Regions from separate parts of the Homo sapiens genome. Here region 2 is linked to region 1. Evidence: fine-mapped expression QTL. A gene starts in region 1. The other region holds a variant in brackets. All regions are shown on one strand. Distances are from middle to middle.

Region 1 (2,922 bases):
ATTTTTAATAGAGACAGGGTTTCACCATGTTGGCCAGGCTGGTTTCAAACTCCTGACCTGAGGTGATCCACCCATCTCAGCCTCCCAAAGTGCTGGGATTACAGGCGTGAGCCACTGCGCCTGGCCATTTATCATTTCTTTGTGTTGGGAACATTCAATATCCCCCTTCCAGCTATTTGAAAATATGTAAAAATAATTGTTAACTTTAGTCATCCTATAATGGTATAGAACACTGGAACTTATTCCTCCTATTTAGCTGTAATTTAGTATCCTTTTATCAAATATATCCCTATCTCTCCCTTACCTCCTTCGTCTTCCCTCTCTTCCTCTTCCCAGCCTCTAGTCTCCTCTGTAGCACTTATTACTTCTATGAGATCAGCTCTTTTAGCTTCCACATGTGAGTGAGAACATGCACTGTTTACCGTTCTGTTCCTGGATTATTTCACTTAACATAACATGGATGGAACTGGAGAACTATATTCCTGGTCTTCATATGCCTCCCTGTCTTGGTCTTCTTATGGGGAAAGGCTGGACCAGATCCCTGGCTTTGTCCTCAGCCTCCAGGGGGTAATGAATTCCTTTGTTTTCCTTCTGTCTTAAAGTTAGCCAGATACTCACAGATAGGCCAGTGCTTAAATTTACACAGGCAATTGCTGATATCCTCCAGGAAATATTGGCTTTTACTGGTTCTCATATTTCTGCCACAGTTATCTCTGGTCACCTCCAGACATTCTTGGTCACCATATGCACCCCCTAACACACATAAAAAATGTCCAAACATCCGTTTTCAATGCTGTGAGTTAATGTTTCCACATGTTTTATAGGGGGCTTTGAAGGATAAGCCAGTGTATCTCCTTAATTCCACCTCTCTTTCCAAACTTCAAGGTGATCAGGCCTAATTTATCTCCACTCACCTGACTCCTTCTTATTGTCCGGATTGCTGGACCTCATAGCTCATTTTAACTTTCCCCTTTCTGAGCCTCCACTGACCTGCACCCCGCTGCTGTCACCACCATGAGAACACTGCCTTTGTTCACCCTTGTTCTTCAGGACAAGTAAACTCATCTCAGAGGCCTCAAGCTATTGGGCCCTGAACTGCTTCCCTATGTGACAGACTGCTTACACACCCATGTGCCCCCTTCCCACCACACCTGCACGTGTTCATGTGTGCACGTGCACACACTTCACACACTTTCAACCCAGCACTTCGCTGGCAGCCAGAGGCAGGTAAGGAGGAGAAAAAAGTGCTAACAGGTTTGTGATTCATTATGATTATTCTCGGAAACAGTCACTATGTCAAGAGGGCTGATCTTACAATGGCAGAACCACATCAGCCTATGACACACATGAAATCTCCCTATCCCGTCTCACGTCCTGCATGGCACAGCAAGTGGACAGAAACACCCTCTCAACCAAAGACAGTTCTTTGTCTTGGTTCTGACATTCCTCTCCTCTGCTTAAGTTTAATGACATTCTAGAGGCAGTAGTGAGGGTGGGATTCAGAGCCAGATTCAAAACTTATTTCTGCTAGGGGCCATCTGCCGCCACTCTGTCACACTCTCCTAAATGGCTGAACTCTATAATCGCTGCACCAGGAGTCTGAGAGGGGCCTTGGATCCCTGAGCTCCTGGCTGACCTGGCATCTGGCAGTGTGCGTGGCTCAGTGGCTGCTTTCTTATGTAACATCAGCCCCGCCCAACCTCGCTGTAAATCCTCTTTCCCAGCATTTGCAGGGTCACAAGAGTCTGGACTCTAGGTATTATTTAACTAAATGGTAGAAATCCTTTTGAACTCTCTGTGTAAATCACTTCTTTCTACTTACTTGCTGTGCTTCTCTGAGTGCCTCGTGGCCTCTTTATCACCACCTGTTGAAGGAAATGTTAGATCCAGATATGGATGGAAGGTAGGCTCAGTTGTTTTTTACTTTTATGAGAATATTGTGCAAATAAAATCTTCCTTGTTCTTACTAAATACTCAGGAATTTAATTTCACCAATTATGAAAGTGCTTACTTTGTAATCTGTTCTTAAACTGAATGGGAACAAATCCTATTGTGGTATGGAGTTACATTCTCTTCTTACCCGGTAAGCAATCAGTCTGTAGAAATGAATAGGACATATTTACCCTGATCAGTTTCTCTGATCTAATAACCCTGGGTCTATTTCTACTTCATACTGTGTATTAAATTTAAGACAAATAGCTGGAAAAATGTGTAAGGATAAGAAAATGTGGACAGTGATTCCAAATATTTCTCATAATTCCCCCATGCGCGCCTGTGGGCTGTGTTGTTTTTCTGCAGACCAGCTGATTAGGGATTCCCGAAGTTCCACAAGATCTTCTTTATGTTAATTGGTAACTAGGTAATTGCGTGTCTCATCAGGATTCCTACAAGTGAAGAGCAGTGCACTAATTCTGATGAGTAGAAAAGTTGGCCAGGAAAAAAATAGATGTTTGTTTTTATAAAAATATCCCTCATCTTGATATTGGTACATCCTGACTCATCAGAAAGTGATGCTTCTCAACGAAGCAAAGCAATCATTCTTTTGTAAAGTTCAAGTAATAATCTTCAGATGAAAACCAAAAAATGCTTATAAATTTGGTGAATAATCCTGAAGCACTTATGTTATTAAAAGTGTCTTTCTGATTAAGACTATCTCTGAAACAGAAAACTAAGATATCCTATTTTGTATCTGACATAACTCTAAATTCATCACTCCTTAAAGAAGTCTTCCTCATGACTGATCAGCTGAATCAAATAATTTTCCTTTTTTCTTTATTACATTTTAATTAATCAGCTGATAAGGTTTGGACACCCAGAAGAAGCAGAAAGCCAGTCACTTTGCAGTAATTCAATTTTCTTTATTGGGGTTGCAATGGTCAAGGAAATAACATGCTCCAAAGATAACACAAAAGTGAACAAAAA
Region 2 (2,922 bases), 660 kb before region 1:
TACTTTTTAGAGTTTCCAGTTTTTCTGCTCTGTTTTTTCCCCATCTTTGTGGTTTTATCTACTTTTGTCTTTGATGATGGTGGCGTACAGATGGATTTTTGGTGTGGATGTCCTTTCTGTTTGTTAGTTTTCCTTCTAACAGACAGGACCCTCAGCTGCAGGTCTGTTGGAGTTTGCTAGAGGTGCACTCCAGATCCTGTTTGCCTGGGTATCAGCAGTGGTGGCTGCAGAGCAGCGGTGGCTGCAGAACAGCCGTGGCTGTAGAACAGTGGATATTGGTGATCTGCAAATGCTGCTGCCTGATCATTCCTCTGGAAGTTTTGTCTCAGAGGAGTACCCAGCCATGTGAGGTGTCAGTCTGCCCATACTGGGGGGTGCCTCCCAGTTAGGCTGCTTGGGGGTCAGGGAGCCACTTGAGGAGGCTGTCTGCCCATTCTCAGAACTCCAGCTGTGTGCTGGGAGAACCACTACTCTCTTCAAAGCTGTTAGACTGGGACATTTAAGTCTGCAGAGGTTACTGCTGTCTTTTTTTTTGTCTGTGCCCTGCCCCCAGAGGTTGAGCCTACAGAGGCAGGCAGGCCTCCTTGAGCTGTGGTGGGCTCCACCCAGTTTGAGCTACCAGGCTGCTTTGTTTACCTAATCAGGCCTGGGCAATGGCAGGCGCCCCTCCCCCAGGCTTGCTGCCACCTTGCAGTTTGATCTCAGACTGCTGTGCTAGCAATCAACAAGACTCCGTGGGCATAGGACCCTCCGAGCCATGTTCGGGATATAATCTCCTGGTGTGTCGTTTTTTAAGCCCGTTGGAAAAGCGCAGTATTAGGGTGGGAGTGACCCGATTTTCCAGGTGCCCTCTGTCATCCCTTTCTTTGACTAGGAAAGGGAACTCCCTGACCCCTTGCACTTCCTGAGTGAGGCAATGCCTTGCCCTGCTTCGGCTGGCGCTTGATGCGCTGCACCCACTGTCTTGCACCCACTGTCCGGCACTCCCTAGTGAGATGAACCCAGTACCTCAGATGGAAATGCAGAAATCACCCATCTTCTACGTGGCTTACACTGGAAGCTGTAGACCGGAGCTGTTCCTATTCGGCCATCTTGGCTCCACCCTCGAAAAAAAGTTTTAAATAACTACCTCAACACCTGATAACTGATAAAACAAGAAGAAGATAGAAAATGAAGAAGAATGTGGAAAATTTTAACATGATAAATTCTTGGCATAATTGATCATATTTAGAAAACAATTACCAAATGAATGTAGATTATATATTCTTTTCAAACACACAAATCACTTACAAAGATTCATCATATGTAACTGCAAAGAAATGCATAATTCTTAAAAGTTGGAATAAGCATATTTCCTAATATGTAACTAAATAGAGAATCAGTTAGAAAATGATAAATATTTTATAAGTTTC[G/A]AAATTCAAAAATGTCTGTGTAAAAACATATGAATTAAAGAAAGAGTTACAATCATGTTTTAACACATACAAAATAAAATATAAAAGTGATGGTGGCAGAAAAACTTAGAGAAAAATGCATAACTTCTGTACCAGTCAGGATTCAACCAGAGAGATGAACCATTGAATGTCATATGTTAATATTAAGAGATTTATTACAAAACATTGACCTTACAGAATGTTGGAAGCTTTTTAAGATGTCTGTAAGACACCTGATGTTAGAGCTTGTTATCCACAGAGCAGACAGTTGAGATGTAAAGGTGGATGAAGGGTCGAGAAGAATGAAAACAAGCTAGAATTCACAAACAAAGCCAAAACTCAAGAGACAATATTGAAACCCAGATTAGTTATTGCTGTCTCTGACATTGGTTGTATGAGTGTCCTGTAGAAACCAAGCCTCTTTTCAATGGAACTAAATACATACACCTGACTCCAGAGTCACAGACACTGAAGAAGTAACCAGAAGAAGGTGGAGCAATTGCAGGTGCAGACTCTGCCTTACATCAGAGGGGCAAGTCAGCAGGTCAATAGCCAAAAAAATCAGGAGATGAGCTACAAAATGAGCTGTTGCTTCATTCATGTACTCTGTTATTGTACACAATCCTCTTATAACCCACTTTAACTGGAAACATACAGGGAATTCTGGGAAATTTAGCCAAGTTGACATATTATAAAGCCATCACATAATCAGATGTATATATCAATAAAAAATAAATGTTGTAAATGAGAACACACGGACACAGGGAGGGGAACATCACACACCAGGGCCTGTTGGGGGCCAGGGGGCAAGGGGAGGGAGAATATTAAGACAAATACCTAATGCATGTGGGGCTTAAAACCTAGATGATGGGTTGATAGGTGCAGCAAACCACCATGGCACATGTATACCTATAACAAACCTGCATGTTATGCACATGTATCCCAGAACTTACAGTAAACTTTTAAAAAAAATATTGTAGATTGTTAATAGACTGGGGATCCCTTTGAATATATTAAAAAGAAACAGCATAATAGCAACAAAACAAGCCAAAAAAAACTATAAGAAAAATAATAATAAAATAGAAAACAAATAAAAATAGGAAGGATCAAGATCAAGCCAGAAACTTACCTTTGGAGAGTTTTTTTAAAAAATTGGCAAACCACTGGAGCAATATACAGAAAGAGAAAAAAAATCAAGAAAGAAGATTCAAGACCTAGCGTCACAAATGAAAATAAGAGCATTATCAAAATGCTGCAAAAGAGAATTTTAAGAGTAAATTTATGCTCCTGCATTTTAAAATTTAAATAAAAAGTCAAATTCTGAGAAAAATATTAAGATAACTCACAAACGTGGATAGTCCTATCTATAGTTATTAAAGTAATTAAATTAGTATTCAAAGTCTTTTCGAAAACTCTAGTTCCAAATGACTTCATTGGTGAGATCTCTCAAGATCCACTTGCATTGTCTTATCCAGCAATTCCACTCCTACGA

Alleles and levels. Alleles are on the strand shown, and positions count from the first base shown. SD is a standard deviation of normalised expression in the study named.
With allele G in place of A in region 2, the expression in CD8 T cells of the gene that starts at base 1,817 in region 1 is lower (large effect, 2.5 SD a copy in CEDAR).

Evidence for each region. PIP is the estimated chance that this variant, and not a neighbour inherited with it, causes the effect.
Region 2: its variant is fine-mapped to the expression of LINC02275 in CD8 T cells (CEDAR, PIP 0.95).

What each region holds. Positions count from the first base shown.
Region 1 is chr4:169,974,797-169,977,718 of GRCh38, reverse strand. LINC02275 (long intergenic non-protein coding RNA 2275) reads left to right here and starts at 1,817. Exons shown (of 5, transcript NR_037878.1): 1 at 1,817-1,903. RefSeq lists an enhancer at 1,070-1,813.
Region 2 is chr4:170,637,410-170,640,331 of GRCh38, reverse strand. No RefSeq gene overlaps it. Among named protein-coding and RNA genes, the nearest start is that of LINC02382, 100 kb to the left of the region's middle. The variant G/A (reference allele first, on the strand shown) is at 1,413.